Linked DNA regions of Homo sapiens: all the other regions are linked to region 2. The links come from fine-mapping of genetic effects on gene expression. A gene starts in region 2. Each other region holds a variant in brackets. All regions are shown on one strand. Distances are between the middles of the regions.

Region 1 (8,185 bases), 87 kb after region 2:
TTCGGCTCCTCGGCGCCTCGAATCGCAGATCTCGGTAGATGCCGCCCAGTCCCCGCCCTGCTTGCGGAAAGAGGCGGGCGACTGCCGCGAAGCGCTGGAGCTGGGACCCGGAGCGCACACCTCGCCAGACGCCCGGGCAGCGAGGCGCTTCCGCTGGGGGTGACGCGTCGGCTCCAGGCTCTGCGCAGGTGAGGGCGGCAAGGCTCCTCTGGACCCAGGGGGGCCAGCAGCTGCTGGAAGCTCCGCCTTCTGTCCCCGTAAGTCCCACCCCCGTCCCCCGCTTCGGCCACCGCGCTTCGGCCACGGCGACTTGGCCAACAACAGCGGCAGCAGGGTCTCCCCATTGAGGGAAGCACGCACCCCTACGTCACGGGCTTTGGCTCCTCCAGTCCGTATCCCTCCCCTCAGCTCACATCCACCCGCTGGTTCATGGGTCCATCTGTCCCCACCGGTCCTTCCACCCCTCCGCATCCCTGTACCCACTTCAGGTAAAGCCAGAGCCACACTTCAGGTTGGGGTGTTAGTGGGAACAACCGTTCTTATTTACGTCTTTAGGAATTTATAAGGTTATTATGCTATTATTAAAACATGAATAAACATATTAACAAAATTTCGAAAAATACATTTCATATGTTAAACTCTACTGAGAGATGAAAAGGAAATGAAGCAGAAGCAACTTTTTCTGTCGTTTTTAGTTTTTGGTTTTTTTGAGACGGAGTCTCATTCTGTCACCCAGGCTGGAGTGCAGTGGTGTGATCTCGGCTCACTGCAACCTCTGCCTCCTGGGTTCAACCGATTCTCATGAGCCAGCCTCTGGAGTAGCAGGGATGACAGGTGTGCACCATCACGCCTGGCCAATTTTTGTATTTTTAGTAGAGATGGGGTTTCACCATGTTGCCCAGGCTGGTCTCGAACTCCTGACCTCAAGTGATCCACCCACCTCGGCCTCCCAAAGTGCCGGGATTACAGGTGTGAGCCACAACGCCCGGCCAGAAGCAAAGTTTTTAACTCTTCATTTATCTTGGAGGGTCTGGTGGAGAAAGGCCATCACTATTTTTGTTATTCAGATAATGTCAATCAAAACTTGTTTATAGTTTTGAGTTCTCGGGAAAAGTAGATTTATCTCTGGTCAGGCTTCCTTTATTAAAGAAAAGATCTCTCCGAAATGAGGACCTAAAGGGTCCTCATTTAGTAAACATATGCAAAGCAATTGCACAGGGTGCTTTACCCCAAAGTTAGGCTCTAGGGAGTTTGAATCCTATATCTGGGCTGCCCTTTGCCTACAGCTGTTTGTTTGGAGGTTACCAGGAAGACTGAGCCAATTTGCATGAAGGCACGGGGCTCCTCCCCCTTACCACCTCCGACTGTTCTCTTAAAAAAATTTCATCAATGTGCAGTGTACCTATTAAAAGGCAAATATTTTGGCTGAGTGCTGTGGCTCATGCCTGTAATCCCAGCACTTTGGGAGGCCAAGGAGGGTGAATCACTTCCAGGTCAGGAGTTCAAGACCAGCCTGGCCAACGTGATGAAACCCCATCTCTACAAAAATACAAAAATTAGCCAGGTGTTGTGGTTTATGCCTGTAATCCCAGCTACTGGGGAGGCTTGGGCAGGAGAATCACTTGAACCCAGGAGGCAGCAACTGCAGTGAGCCGAGATAGTGCCACTGCACTCCAGCCTGGGCCACAGGGCCAGACTTCATCTCAAAAAAAAAGACACACATTTCACAAGTCCGATGATTTTGCACAAAATGAGCATCATCCAGATCAAGAAGCAGAACATTACCAGTACCCTCACAACACTCCCTCTTCAGATTTCTCATTGGAGGGAGTGGTGGCTTCAAACAGCATAGAGTAGTTTTGTTTCTTTTTGTACTTTATAGTGATTGAATCACTCTGTTGACTGGCCTCTTTCACTAATAGTATGATTAAGAGATGCATACTGTGTGTGGCTGTAGTCTGTTTATTCTTTTTGCTGTATAGTATTCCGTTTTGTGATTGTGCCTCAATTGCTTATTCATTTTACTACTGATAGACATTTGGGTAATTCTCAGGTTTGGGACATTACAAATAATGCTGCTATGAACATTAAAATAGATGTCTTTTGGTGACCATATATACTTATTTCTGTTGGGTACATACCTAGGAGTGGAATTGTGAGTCATGATGTAGGCATATGTTCAGCTTCTGGAGATGCCACCAAACAGCTTTTCAAAGCAGATGATCCAATTTTCACTTCTACTTTATTAGTTTTCTATTGCTGCTTGTTACCACAAACAAAATCACCACGAACTTATTGTGGCTTAAAGAACACAGATTTATCCTCTTACAGTTCGGGAGGTCAGAAGTCCAAGTTGAATTTTATGTGGTTAAAACCAGAGTCTCAGCAAGATTGCATTACTTTTGGGGGTTCCAGGGGACAATCTGTTTCCTTGCCCTTTCTAGCTTTTAGAGGCCATCTGCATTCTTTGGCTGGTGGCCCCTTCCTCCATCTTCAATATCTGTCTCTCCCTCTCTCTCCCTCCCTGCCCTCCTCTCCCCACTGCCACGCTTCTGTTGTTACATGTCTCTCTCTCCCTCTGCTTCCTTCTCTCCCTCTGACTCTCCTGCCTCACTCTGGAGGACCTTTGTGATGACACTGGACCCACTTGGATGATCTTCCATTTCAAAATCCTTCATTTAATCACAGCTGCAAAATTAATTTGGCCTGTAGGGTAACATATTCATAGATTCTAGAGATTAGGACATTAAACTCTATGGCGGTTCATTACTCAACCCACCACACCTATCAGCAGGATATTGGAACATGTTGCATGAATGGAGGATGGACTGAATAAACAGAGGATAATGAATTTACAATTTACATTGTATCCCAGATACAATTTACCTGTAGGATTTTTACTGTTGACCTGGGTGCTGTGCCAGGACTGGTGGGCAGGAGAGGAGGGCTGATGCTGGAACACCACTTCTAGCCACCACCAACCTGCTGGCACTACGTGATTTGTGCCTGGGGGCACCCATGCTGAGTGACATGTTAGAGAAGGCAGATCCTCCTTCGTGGGAGTTGGTAACAGCAGTTAAACAGTGGTGAACACATCACATTTTACAGTGGGAAAGGCCCTGTGGTCAGTGGACAGTGTCGCATCACATGCCACAATGGTGGAATTATGAGGACTGACTTCCACAGCAGGAGAGTTAAGGGGAGGTCTGGATTAGACTACAAAGCTCATCTGGTAACCTGGGCAGGCCAGTCCATGCCATCGTTGTAATCTGAATGTTAAAGGGAGATGATTTTAACATTCAAAGTCTGAGAATGAGAATTTCTAGATTATACCTACTTCTGATCTCAGTTTAGTCCAGCAACTACACCCCTGAAGGAGAGAGGACAGATGTTTTTATCCTCATTTTAGCAAAGGGACTGCCAGGGAGCAAAGCTCCATGATTCACCTAAGAAGCCTCAGGAGAGGAAACAGGAACAGAAGGAAGCTCCCAGCTCTTCCCGCTGTCCTTTGTGTGGCTCCACCTCCCTGGAGTGTAGATTCACTACGACCTGAGGTCATGGAAGCTGAGGACCCAGAACCGACCCAAGCCATTCAAACCAAATTGGATACATCCTACTTTGTGAGTGATAGACTGGGATTCTCTGGAATGTGAGACTCCCTGTCCTCATGGTTTTATGCCATCAAAAAATATATTTTAGAAACAAGTAGAAGTAGATGCTTGGGCCAGGCGTGGTGGCTCATGCCTGTAATCCCAGCACTTTGGGAGGCCAAAGTGGGTGGATCATCTGAAGTCGGGAGTTCGAGACCAGCCTGGCCAAC[G/A]TGGTGAAACCCCATCTCTATTAAAAAAGAAAAATACAAAAAATTAGCTGGGCATGGTGGCATGCACCTGTAATCCCAACTGCTTGGGAGACTGAGGCAGGAGAATTGCTTGAACCCAGGAGGCAGAGGTTGCAGTGAGCTGAGACTGCACCACTGCACTCCAGCCTGGGCAACAGAATGAGACTCCATCTCAAAGAAAAAAAAAAGTAGATGCATGTGTTTGATAAACATTTTCATCAGAAACCCCTCCATCTACTTTCTGTCTTCTAGAAATCAGCTGAAAATTCTAGTCTACTGATGAAATCACCCCAGTTCTCTTCACAATTGTGGTTTATACTATTTTACAATTCACTTACTGCCAATTTAATTTAGATCCAGCCTTTAGTGTAACCATTACCCAAAACATGTACATTGCACCTATTGAGTAATTTCTCACCCCTCACCTGGACAGAGAAACGTGTGGTTAGTCTGACATCTTGAATTTAAAATCCCATGGTTGAGCTAAGTAATGTGTAGACATGGACATAGAGTATAGAATAATAGACTTGGAAGACTTAGAAGAGTATGAGGGTATGGGAGAGGGGTGAGGAATGAGAAATTACTCAGTGGGTGCAATGTACATTTTTGGGGTAATAGTTACACTAGAGGCTTAGACTTCACCACTACCCGGCATTTCCATGTAACAGAACTGCACTTGCGCCCTTAAATTTATACAATTTTTTTTAAAGTTCCATGGTTATCAGTATCGTAGTTATCATCATTTCATTAATATTTTATTAAAGAAAACAGAATTCTAAGCTTGCAGTGGAGACAGCCTAAAACCATCCAGCCGACAATCCAGAAGCCCTAAAATGCTCAGAAATTGGTAGCATTATTATCTTAGAACTAGGGGTAAAAAGGCAACTAAAATAAGAACTGATTAAAATTCTGTTTTTCCCAAGGTGGGCATCATACTTAATGCTGAAAGACTGAAAGCTTTCTCCCTAAGATTAGGAACAAGACAGGGATTTCCACTCTCACTACTTCTATTCAACTTTCTAACCACCAGGGCAATTAGGTAAGAAGATGAAATAAAAGGGATTCAGATTGGAAAGAAAGAAATAAAACTATATCTACTTGCAGAAGATATGATCTTGTGTTCAGAAAATCCCAAGATTCTATATACAATTAGAACTAATAAATGAGTTCAGCAAGGTTGCAAGACACAAGATCAATATACAAAAAAACCCAATTATACTCCTATATGGTAACAATAAATGATATGAAATGTAATTCTAAAAACAATTTTATTTACAATAGCATCCAAAAGAATACAACACTTTGAAAGAAATTTAACAAAAGAAGGGGAAAACATATTTTGGAAACAAAATAATTGCTCAAAGACATTAAAGAAGTTATGTCAAAGAAGTCAAAGACATTAAATAAATGGAAAGACATCCCATATACATGGATCAGAAGATTCAATGTTATTAAGATGGCAATACTCCTCACATTGATCTACAGATACAGCACAATTCTTATCAAAATCCCAGCTGGTTTTTTGGAGGACTCATATTTCCTGATATCAAAACTTACTTACAAAGCCATGTTAATCAAGACAGTGTGATACTGACATGAGGACAAAAAGATAGATCAATGGAATAGAATGCAGGGTCCAGACATAAACCTTATATTTATGGTCAACAGATTTTCAACATAGGTGCTAAGACAATTCAATGAGGGAAAGAACACTCTTCAAAAAAATGGGGTTGGGACAACTGGATATCCATGTGCAAAAGAATTTTAAACCTCTACCTCATTCCATATACAAAAATTAACTCAAAAGGATTAAAGACCTTAATGTAAGAGATAAAACTATAAAACTCTTAGAAGATAACATAGGCATAAATCTTCTTGACCATGGATTAGCCAATGGTTTCCTAGATATAACACCCAAAGTAAAAGCAATAACATAAAAAATAGATACTTGGGCTAAATGAAAATGAAAAACTTTTGTGCTTCAAAGGACACCAAGAAGAAAATGGAGAGACAACAAAATGGGAGAAGACTTTTATAAATCATATATCTGATAAGGGGCTTGTGTTAAAATGGGCAAAGGATCTGAGTAGACATTTCTCCAGGGAAGGTATATAAATGGTCAATAAGCACAAGAAAAGATGCTCAGCCGGGCACAGTGGCTCACACATGTAATCCCAGCACTTTGAGAGGCCGAGGTGGGCAGATCACTTGAGCTCAGAAGTTTGAGACAAGGCTGGGCAACACGGCAAAACCCTGTCTCTACAAAAAATACAAAAATTAGTCAGGTGTCGTGGTGTGCACCTGTAGTCCCAGCTACTCAGAAGGCTGAGGTGGGAGGATTGCTTGAACCCAGGAGGTGGAGGTTGCAGTGACCGGAGATCGTGCCACTACACTCTAGCCTGGGCGATAGAGCCAGACCTTGTCTCAAAAAAAAAAAAAAAAATGCTCAGGATTAGTCATTTAGGGAAAGGCAAGTCAAAACTACAAAGAGATATCACTTCACACCAACTAGGATGGCTATAATAAAAAAACAGACAATAACGTATGTTGATGAGCATGTGGAGAAATTAAAACACTCATAAATTGCTGATGGGAAAGTAAAATGGTGCAGGTGCTTTGAAAAATATTTTGGTTTAAGCCTCAAAGGCTTAAACAGAGAGTTACCATATGACTCAGAGGTTCTGCTCCTAGCTATACCCCAAATAAATGAAGCTATATGTACACACACAAAATTGCACATCAATGTTCATAGTCCAAAAAAGGAAACCTAAATGTCCATCAGCTGATGAATGAACAAATGAAATGTGATATATTAAGACAACGTCATATTATGTGGCAACAAAAGGAAATGAAGTCCTTATACATACTACAACAAGGATAAACTTTGAAAAACATTATGTTAAGGCCGTACATGGTGGCTCATGCCTGTAATCCCAGCACTTTGGGAGGCCGAGGTGGGTGGACCACCTGAGGTCAGGAGTTCAAGACCAGCCTGGCCAACATGGCAAAACCCTGTCTCTACAAAAAATACAAAAATTAGCCGGTTGTGGTGGTGGACGCCTGTAATCCCAGCTACTTGGGAGGCTGAGGCAGGAGAATTGCTTGAACCCGGGAGGCAGAGGTTGCAGTGAGCCGAGATCGCGCCATTGCACTCCACACTGGGTGACGAGCAAAACTCCGTCTCAAAAAAAAAGAAAGAAAAAGTGAAAACATTATGTTAAGGGAAAGAAACCAGTCACAAAAGAACACACACAATCACATTATCCAATATATATGAAATGTCCAGGATAGGCAAATCCATAAACTAAAAGCAGATTGGTGGTTGCCTAGGGCTGAGGAGGGGACATTTGGGAGGAGGGGAAAGTTGGGACTAGCTGCTAATTGGTATAGGGTTTCTTTTGGGCGTGAAGAAATGTTTGAAATTTATTGTGGTGATAGTTATACGACTGTGAATAAGCTAAAGCCCCTGAATTGAACACTTTAAATGGATGATAACATGGTATCTGAGATGCATTTGAATAAAGTTGTCACACATTTTTTAAAGTCTGTTTGAGAAGCAGTGATGTTCCCACTTCCTCTCCCCTACTCCTCTCAGTAGTGTGACTGCCCCGTGCCATCCCAGCAGAAAATGGCAGTTTTTTCCTCTGGAGAGGAAAACGGAAGGTCTCTGAGGACACCAGGTAGAGTCGAGGTGAAGGTACCATCCTGACTACGTGGGAATGTCATGAATGCTGGGGATGGGATTTCCCCCGCCCTCGTGCTCCATTCCCAGATAGCTTGAAGCCAGACCTGTCAGGGACTGTCTCCAAATGGTGCTCAGATTAGCTTCCAGTGAAGTTTCCTGTCCAAATGTCTCAGCCACATGCTCAGAGCTGCCAAACATCTTTTTAGTCCCTCACTCTCAAATATGAGCTGACCATCAAATATGTGACATTTGAGGGAAGCTTTTAATGGGAAAGATTAAAACTAAACTAAATAAATAAACAGAAGTATCAAAATCTGAAGGAAACAGACAATGTAAGGAGAAAAAAATAAAAAACTATCATTCAATATCATAGGTTCAATATTTCAACCACATAATAAGAACAGGATTTTTTCTTCTTTTTTTGGGGGGGTGGGGGGGAGGATGGAGTCTCACTCTGTCACCCAGGCTGGAGTGCAGTGGCGCGATCTCAGCTCACTGCAACCTCCGCTTCCCGGGTTCAAGCAATTCTCCTGCCTCAGCCTCCTGAGTAGCTGGGATTACAGGTGCCTGCCACTATGCCCAGCCAATTTTTTGTATTTTTAGTAGAGACAGGGTTTCACCATGTTGGCCAGGCTGATCTCAAACTCCTGACCTCATGATTG
Region 2 (8,185 bases):
TCTAAATTTCACTTAAAGTGGTAAAACATTATAGTAGGTTACAAAAAGTTTGGTATGTAATGATCATCTCTAGAGCAACCATTTTAAAAAACTATGCAAGGAGATATGTTTAAAAAGCCGACATATAAAGTGGAATTTTAAATAATTCAAAATAAAGCCAGCAAGGAAAACAAGTGTAAAAGAAATAAGGGATCAACAAGAAAAATTAATGCTAAAATGGTAGACCTAAATCCAGCTGTATCAAAAATTACACTAGGCCAGGTGTGGTGGCTAATGCCCATAATCCCAACACTTTAGGAGGCTGAAGCAGGAAGATCACTTGAGGCCAGGAGTTCAAGATCAGACTGGGCAATGTAGTGAGGCCCCGTATCTACATAAAACTTAAAAGAATTAGCCAACCATGGTAGTGCATGCCTATAGTCCTGGCTACTCAGGAGGCTGAGGTGGGAGATCATTTGAGCCCAGTAGTTTGAGGCTGCAGTGAGCTGTGATCATACCGCTGTACTCCAGCCTGGGCCACTGAGCAAGACCCTGTCCCTAAAAATAAAAATAAATAACAATTACATTAAATGTAAATGGTCTAAATATGGCAATTGATTTTTTTTTTTTTTTTTGGATCAAGTCTCATTTATTCTGTCACCCAGGCTGGAGTGCAGTGGCACAATCCCGGCTCACTGTAACCTCCACCTCCCAGGTTCAAGTGATTCTCCTGCTTCAGCCTCCTGAGTAGCTGGGATTACAGGCATGTCCACATCTGGCTAATTTTTTCTTTGTTTTTATTAGAGATGGAGTTTCACCATTTTGTCCAGGATAGTCTTGAACTCCTGTCCTCAACTGATCTGCCTGTCTTGGCCTCCCAAAGGACTGGAATTACAGGCATGAGCCACCATGCCTGGCCAGATGGATTTTTTTAAAACCTAATTTATATGCTATCTATACAAGCCACTTATGATACAATGGTACATGCAGGTTAAAAAGTAAAAGGATGGAAAAAGATATTCCATGCAAACACTAAAAAGAAGAAGAAAAGGACAAAGCTGGAGTGGTTATTTTGCTATCAGACAAAGCAAACTTCAGAACAAGGAATATTACCCTGTAATTTATTTTTAAATTTATTTATTTATTTATTTATTTATGAGACAGGGTCTCATTGTATTGCCCAGGCCTAGGGTGCAGTGGCTATTCACAGGCACAGTCATGGCACACTACAGCCTTGAACTTAGGCTCTTAACCCATCCTCCTGCCTCAGCCTCCTGGGTAGCTGAGCCTACAAGTGCGTGCCACTGCACCCAGTTCCCCTGTGATTTATTATTGCATTTCATAGACTAGATACCAAGTTCAGAGAGAGAGTAATCTGTCCAAAGTCACACAGCTAGAAACTAAATTGGAATTTGAGGGAAAACTTTCTAGCTATTAGGACTCTGAAAATGAGGTAAGCTGTATTCATGCAGTGCTTTGTTTTGATTTTGAGACAGAGTCTCACTCTGCGGCCCAGGTGGAATGCAGTGGTGTGATCATGGCTCACTGCAGCCTTGAGTTCCTGGGCTCAAGCAATCCTCCCACCTTAGCCTCCTGATTAGCTGATACTACAGGCACATGCCGACACACCTGGCTTGTTTTTTATTTTTTCGTAGAGATGGGTCTCACTATGTTGTCCAGGCTGGTCTCAAAGTCCTGGTCTCCTCCTGCCTCAGCCTCCCAAAGTACTGGGATTACATGTGTGAGCCACCATGCCTGGCCTTTATTCATGTTTAGATGTCACCAAAAGCAGCCCCAGACTCAAGTTGGGGCCTGTGTCTCACATTCTAATCGTTATATTCTTTCCCCAGTGCAGCATGTACCCTTAACTTACAAAACCTTTTTTGTGCCAAAAAAGTAATTAGACTTATTTTTACCATAAAATTTCCAAACACTCAGAAGTAAAGGAAATAGTAGGATGAAAATCTATATACCCAGCCTACAACAATCCTCTGAGTCAACACTATCAAGACTTACCTCTTTTGCTTCATCCATCCCTTAATTTCTTTGCTGGAGCATTTTAAAGCAAATATCAGACATACCCTTTCACGCCTCACACTTCAACATGCGGCTCTAAAAATAAGGACAGTGAAGAGGAATTTTGAGTCAGTTATTGTAAAATATATGAAAATATTGTAATATTGTGACCAATATGTCATAAAAACTTAGCAAACTGATGCAGGAACAGAAACCAAATACTGCATGCTGTTACTTATAAGTGGGAGCTAAATGATGAGACACATGGACACAGAGTGGGGAACAACACACTGGGACTTTTGGAGGGTGGAGGGTGGGAGGAGGGAGAGCAGGAGAAACAATGAATGGGTACTAGGATTAATACCTGGGTGATGAAACAACCTGTACAACAAACCCCTATGATACAGTTTACCTGTGTAACAAACCTGCACTTGGACCCCTGAAGTTAAAAATTTTAAAAATGAAAAAAAAAAAAAGCCGGGCACAGTGGCTCACGCCTGTAATCCCAGCACTTTGGGAGGCTGAGGCGGGTGGATCACTTGAGGTCAGAAGTTCGAGACCAGCCTGGCCAACATGGTGAAATCCTGTCTCTACTAAAAATACAAAAATTAGCCAGGCGTGGTGGTGCGTGCTTGTAATCCCAGCTACTCAGGAGGCTGAGGCAGGAGAATCGCTTGAACCCGGGAGGTGGAGGTTGCAGTGAGCCGAGATCGTGCCACTGCACTCCAGCCTGGGGGAACAGAGTGAGACTTCATCTAAAAAAAAAGAAAAACAAGTTTTTTAAAAAAGACCTGTACTGCAATCAATGCCATCAAGAAAGTGAAAAGACAATCTGCACAACGGGAGAAAATATTGCAAATATTTGCAAATTACCTGTTAAGGGACTTGTATTGAGACTATATAAAGAATTCTCACAATTGAAATGAGCACAGGATTTGAGAAGACATTTCTCCAAAGGAAATATATAAATGACCGATAGCACCTGAAAATATGCTCAATATTATTAGTAGGGAACTACAAATCAAGATAATGAGGTAGTACTTCATATCTACTAGGATGGCTATAATTTAAAAAACATAACAACAAGTACTGACTGGTAAGGATGTGGGGAAATTGGAATCTTCATACATTGCTGGTGGGAATGAAAGATGGTACAGCTGATTTGCAAAACTGGCAGTTCCTCACACAGTTAAACAGTTACTATATGAACAAGTAGTTCCACTCCTAGGTATGTACACAGATATGCACACAGGAATGTATTCATATACGTCCACACAAAACTTGTCCATGAATGTTCACAGCAGCAGCATTCATAAAAGACAAAATGTAGAAACAACCCGAATGTCCTTCAGCTGTTGAATGGACACACATAAAATGTGGTATTTACAAACTGGAATTTATTCCAGCATAAGAAGGAAGGAAGTACTGATACATGCTAAAACATGGGTGAATTTTGAAAACATGCTAAGTGAAAGAAGCCAGTTACAAAGATCATACATACAGTCTGTGATTCTATTTACATGAAATTCCAGAATAGGCAAATTCATGAGACAGAAAGTAGATGAGTTGTTGCCTGGGGGTAGGAAGGGGGTAAATGGAGAGTGATTGCTTTGGAGTGATGAAAAATATTTTATCTGAAAGGCTGGGCAAGAATAACTCCCCTTTGTATTACGTGTCAGGTGATGTTAGTTATCCTAACTCTACCACTGGCAGATTGAGTTTTTTGGTCACAGAAGCTGAAAATGGCAGAGCTTTGTTGTTAATTCTGATCACTAGTTTGGCTTCAAAAAGTAATGAGTTAAGGAGGGCTAGAAAGACAGTGGATGGGAGGACCCAGTTGCTGAGAGCGTTTTCTGAGTGAACACTGGTAGAGAGACAGAAGGGGAGAGAAAACTTCAAGTTATCAGCTCGGTAACTTTGTACAAAAACTTATTTATTTATTTATTTATTTATTTGACAGTCTAGCTCTATCGCACAGACCGGAGCGCAGTGGAGCGATCTCGGCTCTCTGCAACCTCCACCTCTCCGGTTCAAGCCATTCTTGTGCCTCAGCCTCCCGAGTAGCTGGGATTACAGGCGCGCGCCACCACGCCAGGATAATTTTTTAAATTTTCAGTAAGGACGGGTTTTAACCATGTTGGCCAGGATGGTCTCGAATTCCTGACCTCAAGTGATCCGCCCACCTCGACCTCCCAAAGTGCTGGGAGTACAGGCCTGAGCCACCGTGCCCGGCCAGAAACACTGATTTTTATCAGTAATGATTCCACACCCTTTTAGGATATTACTAACATTTAAAAGAAAATATACCCAACTGTTGAAATTCGTGCTCCACTCCAGCAACTGCTTTCAATCGGAGTTCCATCCTCCGCCGCAGTATGCCCTAACGCAGCGTTATCTTCAGAGCTACCACCAGCTTCCGAAACCTTTCGGAGGAGCGCTTCGCCACCACCTGCACGGCGAAGCGGCGCGTAAACGAACCTCGAACGCCAGCCTTTGCGCCTGCGTGCCGCGGCTCCGTTTGGTTCCGCTTCGCTGGCGCCCGCCGGGCTCTTCCCCCGCCGAGGCCTGTGGTTTGTGGAGTCGAATTTCCCTGCCACCAGTGCCCGGTTAGCAGGGGCGCCAGCCTGGGCGCCTGCGCGGACGGCGGGCGTCGTCACCATGGCAGCATCCGCTGGAGGCCCAGGTAAGCGCCGAGCGCGCGGCCTCTGCCTGGAGGTGGGGCGCTTTGAGAGGCTCCGCCGGCCGTACCCTCCCTTTGCGGGCTCCCGCGGTCTTCCTTGCTAGGGACCTGGGAGCGCGCCGCGCAGAACCGGGCGGCTGGGCTTGGAGCCCGCTCTGCACTCGGGGCGCGCCCGCGATCGCCTGGCAAGGACCTTGGTTTGCCGGGTGGGCTCTAAGGGACAGGCGTTAGGGGAGGTCGAGAATGGCAGGGTCAGTGTCTTTTGAGGTCTGGGTTGGAAAGAAAGGAATGTGACGTTTCCCTAATCCTTAATTTCAGCCGACCGTATGGGGGCGGTCTGGGTCAGTAGGTTCCTCTTTGAAAGCTGGGGGAGGTTTGGGAATGCGGACTGGGCCGGGCCCGGCATAGTCCCGCTGCTGAGCGCGCTGCCTGGAAAGCTGGCAGAGTGTGCGGCTCGCTTGATTCCCCTTGGAATCAGGTGCTTCAACTCGCGGGACAGCAGTTCCGCTCTTGAAGGTTACAGTATCTTTTCTGTAAACTTAAGTAGTGGCATGAGACAACGTCAGTGACGCGTTCTTTCTTCAGTTTAGATTTTTTTCCCTAATTGTAAAAATAATACACGCTTTCACCATTCTGACTAGCAGGCTGTATAAATACAGGTTCTCTTCTGAATCGATGCACAGTTTACAGAATCTTGGAATAAAATGTGTGTGTAAGCGAAAAATGTCCAGGTCCTGATAAATGCCATTATAGAACATTTATAAAGTATATTAGTATAGGGAAATAGGAAAAAAAAATCCCCCAAATGCTGATACCCACAGGCACCACTACTAACTTTTTGGTATTTTCTAACAACCCTGACTCTTAAAAATAGAGTTAAGGTCATGGTAAACATAATTTTTAAAATCCTGCATCTTATACTATCCCATGTCACCAAGGTTTTTATAAACATAATTTTGAATGACTGAAGTGTTTTATACAATTATATTGTATACAATTATATTGTAATTAACCAGTCTCCTAATGTTGAACGTTAATCAGTCGTTTCCTGTTTTGTTTTGTTTTGTTAGAATTCATTCTGTAATGAACATTTTTGCATTGTTCTTCCTCAGTTATGTTTTTGGTTTGTTTTTATCCTGGACACGATTCTTGTAACTGAAATTACTGGATCAAAGGATGTGAACTTTTTTCTCTCTCTCTTTTTTAAGATCTGTGCTAAACCTCCGTAGAACATTTTTTCAGACCAGAGTTTTCCTTTTTTAACCCTTGTGCTCTTCTCAGTATAAATCCTTTTAATGCCTAGTTTTCCTAAGAATCCAAACAAATCTGGGACAAAGCTCACACTCAAGACTTACACCATTCTCACTCACAGGCTGTATAAATCCAGATTCTCTTCTGAATCGATGCAAGGTTTACAAAATCTTGGAATAAAATGTGTGCACAAGTGAAAAATGTCCAATTGCTGACAAATGCCATTTTTTAAAAAACAAATTTTTGGGCCGGGCGCGGTGACTCACGCCCGTAATCCCAGCACTTTGGGAGGCCGAGGTGGGCGGATCACGAGGTCAGGAGATCAAGACCATCCTGGCTAACACAGTGAAACCTCGTCTCTACTAAAAATCCAAAATAATTAGCCGGGCGTGGTGGCGGCGCCTGTAGTCTCAACTACTAAGGAGGCTGAGGCAGCAGAATGGCGTGAACCCGGGAGGCGGAGCTTGCGGTGAGCCAAGATTGCGCCACTGCACTCCAGCCTGAGCAACAGAGAGAAACTGTCTCAAAACAAAAACAAAAACAAAAATTTCTTCTCATTACCGAGTTATTGATAAAACTAATTCTTAACCAGATTCTTCCGTTATATGTCATTTTTCCCCCTTACACACACACACACACACACACACACACACACATTCTCAACATAAAAAAGTTCAAAAGGCACAATAGGATGTATAGTGAAAAGTTCCGTCCTGGCCGGGCGTGGTGGTTTACGCCTGTAATCTGAACACTTTGAAAGGCAGGAGGATCGCTTGAGCCCTGGAGTTTGGATCAGCCTGGGCAACACAGGGAGGCCTTATCTCTCCAAAAGAAAACAAATAAATTAGCCAGGTATGGTGGTGGCACATACCTGTGGACCCAGCCACTCAGGAGGAGACTGAGGCGGGAGAATCGCTTAAGCCGGAGAGGCTGCAGTGAACCAAGAACATGCCAGCCTGGGCAACAGAGCCAGAGCCTTAAAAAAATTAATAAATTCTTCAAAATCCTTACTGATGTACAATTTGCATACTATTAATATACAACTTATTTAAAGAGTATAATTCAGTGGTTTTAGCTTATTTATTTAATTTTAGCTTATTCACAGACTTGTGCAACAATTACCACAATTAATTTTAAAACATCTTCACCTTACAAAAAGAAACACTTCCCCATCCCCCACCCTTTAACATCCACAACTGCTATTCTTCTATTTTCTGTCTCTATGAATTTGCCTGTTCTGGATGTTTCATATAAATGGAATCATCCAATATAGACCCTCTTATGTCTAGCTTCTTCCACTTATCATAGTGTTTTCAAGATTCATCCATCTTGTAGCATGTTTCAATACTTCATTCCTTTTTATGGCCAAAAAAGGAATTGCATGAAACACCACATTTTGTTTATCCACTCATTAGTTGATGGACATTTGAGTTGTTTCCATCTTTTGGGTATAGTGAATAATGCTACTGTGAACATTTGTGTACAAGTTTTTGTGTGGACATATGGTACATTGTCTTTAATGGTAAGTCAATTCTGGTAGTCACTTTTGGAAACTGGAAGGAACCTTAATGATTGTCTAGTCCAGGGGTCAGCAAATAGCAAACTTTCTTTTTTAATTTTATTTTTAATTGACAAATAATAATTGCATATTTGCGAGGTACAATGTGATGTTATGATACATGTATACATGGTAGAATGATTAAGTCAGGCTAATTAATATATCCATCACCTCACATACTTATCATTTCTTTGTAATGAGAACATTTAAAATCTACTCATTTAAGAAGTTCAAAATATATAATACACTATTATTATTATTATTATTATTATTATCATTGAGACAGGGTCTCGCTCTGTCACCCAGGCTGGAGTGCAGTGGTGCAATCATGGCTCACTGCAGCCTTGACCTCCTGGGCTCAAGTGATCCTCCTGCCTCAGCCTCCTGAATAGCAGGGACTACAGGCACACACCACCATGCCTGGGTTATTATTATTGTTAGTTTTAGTGGTAGAGACAAGGTCTTGCTTCATTGCCCAGGCTGGTCTCGAACTACTGAGCTTAAGCAGTCCTTCCGCCTCAGCCTCCCAAAGTGCTGGAGTTACAGTTGTGAGCCAGCATGCCTGGAATTACTAACTATAGTCACCATTGCTGTGCAATAGATCTTGGGAACTTATTCCTCCTGTCTAACCGGAACTTTGCACCCTTTGACTGACATATCCCCCTCCCATCCAATTGCCCTGGCTGCATCCCTAGCCTCTG
Region 3 (8,185 bases), 30 kb after region 2:
TATTAGAAAGAAATTCAGAATTTGTATGTCAACAGCTTAAGATCTGTGTAACTTAGGGAAAGTCATTTAACTTCTTGACATCTGTTTGCTAATCTAAAAAATAGGGAGAATGTGTACGGACCTTGTATACTGCCTGGCATGGGATAATCGCTCACTGAGTGTTACTTTTCTTTCCTTTTTTTTTATCTTCCTCAAAAGGATACTGAACATGGTGCCTCCTGTAGTTCTGTGCCCTGTTTTCTTAGCATTAACTGAAGTTCTTTTATTTGGACAGGTACTGCTCACATGATAGAGGCTGATGTCCTTCTTCCAAGTGATGGATCAGAACACAGCCAGCCAATTATGGCCCATCCCCCTGAAACAAACAGTGATAATACTCTACAGGAGTGGCTGACTGAAGTTATGAAAAGCAATAAAGGCATCAAGCTGGATTTCAAAAGGTATTTGTATAAACACGTTCAATTTTCTGGGAAAAAAGTAATAGCTGTGCCTGACTACCTATTTTTTTTAATGTTATCCAAACTGAAAATGGAATTGTAGACTCTAATATATTTCAGGACTGAACCTAAATGAACCTAAGACCCACTGAGTTATTTACTAAAATTGTTTTTTGGAGACCCTTAAAGGCAAAAGTTAGATTAATTTTTATAAAGGAATTTATCATAAGTGACCATCGTGACAACAGAAAGGTAAATTAAAAATGCTACATATGTTAAAAAGTAACCCAGGAGAGAGAGAGCTGGGAGAAATTCATTGAGCTAGTTAATGCATACCCTATTTGATTTATGTTATTATATTTGTAAAGGGAATTATTTAGAATTCTCCAATAACCAAAGTGTTTCTTAAAAATAATGCTTGGAGGCAGCCGGGCACAGTGGCTTCAGCCTGTAATTCCAGCACTTTGGGAGGCTGAGGTGGGCGAATCAACCGAGGTCAGGAGTTTGAGACCAGCCTGACCAAAATGGCGAAACGCCACCTCTACTAAAAATACAAAAATTAGCCAAGCATGGTGGTGGGCGCCTGTAATCACAGCTACTGGGGAGGCTGAGGCAGGAGAATTGCTTGAACCTGGGAGGCGGAGGTTGCAGTGAGCCGAGATCACGCCATTGAATTCCAGCCTGGGCTACAAGAGTGAAACTCCCTCTCAAATAATAATAATAATAATAATAATAATAATAATAATAATAATAATATTTGGAGGCATTAATACTGAAGAGCAAGAGTAAGCTGTCATTTCCTTCACTGTGGCCATCACAGGAAATTTTACTTTTGTAGTATTTTAGCAGTGTAAAAATGATAAAGAAAGCCAGAAATATACAGCAACACTTCAGAAGCACACTGTAAAGCTTATGAAGGCAGCTGCTATTGAAATCTAGGATTGGCAGTAAGCCTACTTCATCTCTGAGTAATATTTTTAAATAGAATTATCTCAAGAAATTAATAAGGACTTGGAATCTTGTAGGATTCTTAAGATGACTCTAACCATTTGTTATGGGGCAAAATATACCAGTAAACCTTATTATACCGTTAGTGAATGAATAGATGTATAAAATCTTGATATACAGGAGTTTGGATTGACAGGGTCTTGTGAATTAAAGAACTATCTTAAGATCATAAACTTTTTTTTCGACCGGGCACGGTGGCTCACGCTTGTAATCCCAGCACTTTGGGAGGCCAAGGCGGGTGGATCACCTGAGGTTAGGAGTTTGAGACCAGCCTGGCCAACATGGTGAAACCCCTTCTCTACTAAAAATACAGAAAATTAGCCAGGCATGGTGGTGCGCACCTGTAATTCAGCTACTCGGGAGGCTGAGGCAGGAGAACCTCTTGAACCCAGGAGGTGGAGGTTGCAGTGAGTTGAGATTGCGCCACGGCACTCCAGCCTCGGCAACAAGAGCAAAACTCTGTCTCAAAAAAATAAATAAATAAATAAATAATAAAAAATCATAAACTTTTTGAGTTATCAATGGTTCAATTTCATTTTATTGACAAAGAAACTTAGTTCCAGAGAGGTTAAGTGATGTACCTGAGGGTAACAGGTAAGCTTTGACAGGTAAGCTACAACCAGATCCTAATTCTCCTGAAGCCAGTCCAGTGTTCTCTATATCATGAAATAAAGCATTTGATCTTTAGTGCTTGATGGCTTAAACTTTTAGATCTCCTTGATGTCACGTGCTCAGTTTTTCATGTTTACTATTGCCCCTTGAATTGTTTCCTGGGACATATTCTTTGGCTTCTCACCAGTCAGATCAGCTCATTCATTCTTAAGTGCTAGCAGCTAGCACAAAAGCGCTGAGCCTCTGAAACAAAGATTTTGCAAGTTTTTTTTAAAGTCATAACATATTTGAAGGGGATTCAATATAAACTAATAGGTATGTGAACACCTATTACATGTCAGACACTGTTGTAAAAGCATTGCATGTATTTTTCATTAAATTCTCGTAACAATCCTAAGAGGTAGGTTATTGCTGTTATTCTCATTTTCCGGATGAGGCAATGGAGATGGAGGGGCTGAGGAGCCCGCTTGTCACGTAGTTGTTAGTGGAACTAGAGAGCTGTCAGCCTGGCTGGAGAGTTCACACTTTTAACCAGAATGCTGCACTCACTCCCTTTGTAAGAGCAGCTGAATGACCTGTTAGTTAAGTTTTAGTAGTTCTTGTTTTGTGCTTCTAAGTTACTTTGTTTGGTACACAAATAAAAAGTATTATATTTTGGCTGGGCGCAGTGGCTCATGACTATAATCCCAGCACTTTGGTAGGCCAAGGTGGGCGAATCACCTGAGGTCAGGAGTTCTAGACCAGCCTGACCAACATGGAGAAACCCCGTTTCTACTAAAAATACAAAATTAGCTGGACGTGGTGGCACATGCCTGTAATCCCAGCTATTCGGAAGGCTGAGGCAGGAGAATCACTTGGACCCGGGAAGCGGAGGTTGCAGTGAGCCGAGATCATGCCATTGCACTCCAGCCTGGGCAACAAGAGTGAAACGCCATCTCAAAAAAAAAGTATTATATTTTTAAATTTTATCTGGAGTCTCAGCAAGCTCTTCAGCGTTTTAGCTAAGAATTATTTTCCCTTAAACAATGCAATTTTATATAGTTTGTTACAATTTTAAGTACGATATTTATTTTATCATTCCCAATTTTTAAATGAAATTAATAGGAAAACAGGGTATGATATTTAGAAGTTTGATTTACAAATAACTTTTTAGGAAAAAAATATATTCTATAATAACTAAGTTTATATTCTTTTCAGGAGACTTAAATAAATACCACCAAGGAGCAATTTTCAGTAGTAGTCTCACCAGGACTTTCCTCTTCGGATGATCATCTTGGTGAAGCTTTGGTACTTCCTTATGGAAACTTAGTACTAATATATGTAAGAATTGAGAATGTTGGCCACTGTATTTTAAATTAGAATCACATGGAATTTATAGATTAATTTAGAAGGATGTGTCATTTTATAATACATGCAATATTGAGTCTTCCAGGCTTGGTCTGTTATTTCTTGTAGTATACAGTAGTCCTCTGTTATCTGCAGTTTCAGTAACCTGCAGTACACCATGGTCTAAAAGTGTTAAATGGAAAATTTGAGAAATAAACAATAAGTTTTAAATTACACACCATTCTGAGCAGTGTGGTGAAATCTGGTACTTTCCTATTCCATCCCAGCTGGGGTGTGACTCATCCCTTCCCTTCGTCCAGCGTATCCACACCATATATGCTGCCCACCTGTTAGTCACTTAATAGCCGTCACAGTTATCAGATTGACAGATCACAAGAAGAAGGGTGAGTACGGTACAGTATGCTATTTTGAGAGAGAGAGAGAGACCACATTCACATAACTTTTATTATAGTATATTGCTATAATTGTTCTATTTTATTACTAGTTTATGTTGCTAATCTCTTACTGTGACTAATTTATAAATTACACTTTATCAGAGATAGGTATGTGTAGGGAAAAAAAACAGACTACATATAGGGTTGGGTGCTAGGTAGTTTCAGGCATCCCTTGGAGGTCTTGGAACATATTCCCTGCAGATAAGGTGGACTACTGTAGATTTTATTTTGTTGTTTAGGAAAGTTTGTTCTCAGTTCTTTTTTCTCCCACAAAATGTTACACCTTTTCTTCCAGAAGAACTTTAGAATTACTTCGTCAAGTTTTAGAAAATAAGAACTACAACAACAAAAAGTTTTTGGTTCTTTAGTGAGGTTTTAAATTTGTTTAACCGCAGATTTTAAGTTTCTGGTAAGGGAAAATATCATTATCCTTCGTCTACATTAGTGATAATTAAAATATTTACATATAAAATGGAATAAATGTACTAAATTCTTGCTTCACTGTGTTCTTTGTCATAGTTCCTTATGTTTAACTGCACAGTGCTTCGCATGTAGTAGGCACTTAGTAAACACTGGTGGAATTTCGATTTGTGGGAGAATACGCTGTTTGAAACTGGATATTGGCCAGGTGCGGTGGCTCATGCCTGTAATCCCAGCACTTTGGGAGGCCGAGGCAGGTGGATCACTTGAGGTCAGGAGTTCAAGACCAGCCTGGCCAACATGGTGAAACCCCATCTCTACTGAAAATACAAAAATTAGCTGGGTGTGGTGGCGCATG[C/T]CTATAGTCCCAGCTACTTGGGAGGCAGAGGCAGGAGAATGGCTTGAACCCGGGATGCAGAGGTTACGGTGAGCAGAGATCGCACCGTTGCACTCCAGCCTGGGTGACAGGGCGAAACTCCATCTCAAAGAAAAAAAAAAAAAAAAAAAGAAACTGGATATTATCAGATGAAGAATCAATCTTAAACCACTCACTCTATGTCAACTTACTAAATTGAGAAAGCCTAAAAGGCTCCCTCCTGAAATGTAAACTGGAAATTAGTATTTAACCCAGCTTCCATAAGACACCAGATTTCTTAAGAAATCAGAGTCCTTTTTGGAAAAAGAGGAGCTTGGCAGGAGGCATGCATGGATTAGTTCAAGGTTTTTCCTTACTCCACCCATGAAGAGCAGCACCTCATGGGGACTTGGCTGCTGCTATGGGACTGACAGACAAGCAAGCTTTGGAGTCACAGGTACAAGTTGCTTGCTACGAAAAATGGAATTTTGTAGGAAGTACAGTGTTGGATCTCAGAATTGTGGTTTTAACATGGTGTTGACACAGGGCAAGGCAGGGAGAATTTAAAAGAGACAAATGACAACATCTAAATTAATGTCTGCAGAGTCCAGCATTAAGGTTTATTAATCCACTAAAATCTAGGCCCTCCCCAATTCAGGGGCAGAAGAGTGAGAAGGAAGCGTACCACATGGCAGCAGAGGGAAAGGGGCTAGAAGCTAAGGGATAGAGCCTGGGTTCCTCTGGTTTTAGTACATAGTATCCTTGCTCACTGGTAAACATAACCCAATAAATAATGAGATTATTTAAATTTCTTCTCTTAGAGTAGGAGGCCCAAAAGGAGTGGAGACAAGAGAGGTAGAAGCATAGACAGAAGTACTGCCGTCTCTTAGGAAGAGAGAGGGAAATGTGAGGAGGGGTCGGTGAGTGTTCTCCCCTCCAGTATCCATCTCCAAAATTCATAGCCTCCCATTATGATATTCACTACAAGGTAATTTTCTTATAAATGAACATAGGCAAGTAAAAATTATGGAAGCTGATTAAAACCTTATTGTTTCAAAGTCTGTAGTTATCAGCTAGAATATCTGTAGGGAAGTAAAAAGATTGAAGTTGCTTTTTAAATTTGAACTAAAATATACGTATTTCTAATTTTCAGAAAAGGTTCTTACAATAAAAGAAGAAAAATGAAACAGAAACTTGAAGGAAATACTATAATTTTATATTTTACAGTCATTTTTAGAATTGTTTATGTATCCAAACTCACCCAAGAATACATAAGGGAAAGAAGCTACTTTTATTCTCCAGGGTCATGAGCCTGAATTAGAGATACAGGGCTTGGATCCACTTGGGTATTTCATAAATGTGAATTTACAGGTTATTAAGTGTATTTCATTTATCTTATTTATACATTCTGGAACGAGTGAATATTTGTGTCTTTTAAAAAACTGTTTTCACACCAAGTGATCCTAATATGGAGTTTTGAAACCTCTATTTTGTCCACAAGTAGTACCACTATTCATATATTTATAGACTCTTTAAGGTATATTCATGAATAATAAGCACAGTTCAACATTTAGAGATATGGCATATGTTAGCTTTTCCCTCTGGTGCTATGCGATCTTTGATTTTATTTAACCCAGACATTATTGTATTTTGATTATGAATTTGAGAACATTGAGACCACTAGTCTAAAAGAACTTCTTTTTACTTTACCTAAAGAATCTATCTCATTGACAACAAATTATGTTTTTAGTCTGGCAGTTGTAGAACCATCCATGATGCTCTTGGAAAATGTGAAGAGGCATCTGAAGCGTCCTGTATGGATTAATGCCGATATTCTTCCTGGTCCAAATGGAAATAGCAAAGTAATAGATGCAAAACCATTTTTAGACACCGTGATATCCTTCTTTCCAGACGTGACGTTTTCCCTGGGTTGGACAACAGGATGGCATCCTGAGAAAGTCAATGAAGGTAATAATTCTAATAATGTATTTCTTGGTCAAATTAAAATATCCTCCAGGTATAAAAATAACATCTTTAATACAAAGACCAAAACCCATTCTACAAAATCTAAGCCTGATGGAAAAAAAGGCCTGACCCTTCAGGTATGTGCAGACCCTTCCATCTGCTCTTTCAGATAGATGCCATGTTCACTGGTGACGCTGCAGATTTTAAGAGAGTTCACACATTTATAGTCATATAAGTAAAGCTTCTGTTAGCAATCTCTTTTTCTAATTTTTAAAAATATAATTTTCCAGATTTTAAAGGAAAGTGGAACACGTCCCTTCTTTTTATCAGGAAATTAGCTGCTAAACTAACATATTCACTTAAGATTTCTGTAAAATGTTCCTTTACTGACTGACCAATATTTTTTACAACTTGCTTTTGATAGAGTATAGAGTTATTTAAAATAGATATATTCTGGCCGGGCGTGGTGGCTCATGCCTGTAATCACCACACTTCGGGAGGCCAAGGTGGGCGGATCACCTGAAGTCAGGAGTTTGAGACCAGCCTGGCCAGCATGACGAAACCCCGTCTCTACTAAAAATACAAAAGTTAGCCAGGCATGGTAGTGTGTGCCTGTAGTCTCAGCTACTCGGGAGGCTGAGGCAGGAGAATCACTTGAACCCAGGAGGCGTAGGTTGCAGTGAGCCAAGATCGTGCCACTGTACTCCAGCCTGGGCAACAGAGTGAGACTCTGTCTCAAAAAAAAAAAAAAAGTGTGTGCATATATATATATGTGTGTGTATATATATATATATTTATTTATTATGTATATAGTTTATTTATATATAAAAATATATATTCTCTATATATACATAGATACTTTTTTTTCAAGCTATTTAGAAACAAGCAAGTGTGTTTTCCATGTGGTTTTTTTTTTTTTTAAATAGAGTCTTGCTCTGTTGCCCAGGCTGGAGTGCAGTGGTGTGATCTCAGCTTACTGCAACCTCCACCTCCCAGGTTCCCAGGTTCAAGTGATTCTCGTGCATCAACCTCTTGAATAGCTGGGATTACAGGCGCCACCACGCCCAGCTAATTTTTGTATTGTTTTTTAGTAGAGATGGGGTTTCACCATGTTGGCCAGGCTGGTCTCAAACTCCTGACCTCCAGTGATCCACCCACCTTGGCCTCCCAAAGTGCTGGGATTACAGGCATGAGCCACTGCACCTGGCCTTTTTTTTTTTTTTTTTTTTTTTTTAAAAAACAGGGTCTGGCTCTGTCACCCAGGCTGAGTGCAGTAGTACCATCATGGCTCACTGCACCTTCAACCTCCTGGGCTCAAGTGATCCTCCCACCTCAGCCTCCAGAGTAGCTGAGACCACAGGCATACACCATCACACACAGCTACTTTTTAAATTTTTTTGTAGAAGTGAAGTCTCACTAAGTTGCCCAGGCTGGTTTCAAACTCCTGGGCTCAAGCTATCCTCCCACCTTGGCCTCTCAAAGTGCTGGGATTACAGGCATAAACCACCATGCCTGGCCCACAATGTCTTAACATGATTTAAATATATGTAAAATATATACATATATAGTCAATTTTACCACTATTTCTACTTTAAGTAAAATATACA

Evidence for each region. PIP is the estimated chance that this variant, and not a neighbour inherited with it, causes the effect.
Region 1: its variant is the best candidate, but not a certain one, in a credible set for the expression of FAM151B in whole blood (TOPMed, PIP 0.54).
Region 3: its variant is the best candidate, but not a certain one, in a credible set for the expression of FAM151B in whole blood (INTERVAL, PIP 0.79).

What each region holds. Positions count from the first base shown.
Region 1 is chr5:80,570,257-80,578,441 of GRCh38, forward strand. It overlaps ANKRD34B (ankyrin repeat domain 34B), which reads right to left and starts at 24. Exons shown (of 5, transcript NM_001004441.3): 1 at 1-24. The variant G/A (reference allele first, on the strand shown) is at 3,821.
Region 2 is chr5:80,483,471-80,491,655 of GRCh38, forward strand. It overlaps FAM151B (family with sequence similarity 151 member B), which reads left to right and starts at 4,630. Exons shown (of 6, transcript NM_205548.3): 1 at 4,630-4,678. The coding sequence starts at 4,654. It overlaps FAM151B-DT (FAM151B divergent transcript), which reads right to left and starts at 4,476. Exons shown (of 3, transcript NR_172938.1): 1 at 4,308-4,476; 2 at 1,996-2,091. RefSeq lists enhancers at 4,234-4,735, 4,736-5,235 and a silencer at 4,900-5,194.
Region 3 is chr5:80,513,330-80,521,514 of GRCh38, forward strand. It overlaps FAM151B (family with sequence similarity 151 member B), which reads left to right. Exons shown (of 6, transcript NM_205548.3): 3 at 275-440; 4 at 6,364-6,581. Among named protein-coding and RNA genes, the nearest start is that of FAM151B, 29 kb to the left of the region's middle. RefSeq lists an enhancer at 1-421. The variant C/T (reference allele first, on the strand shown) is at 4,617.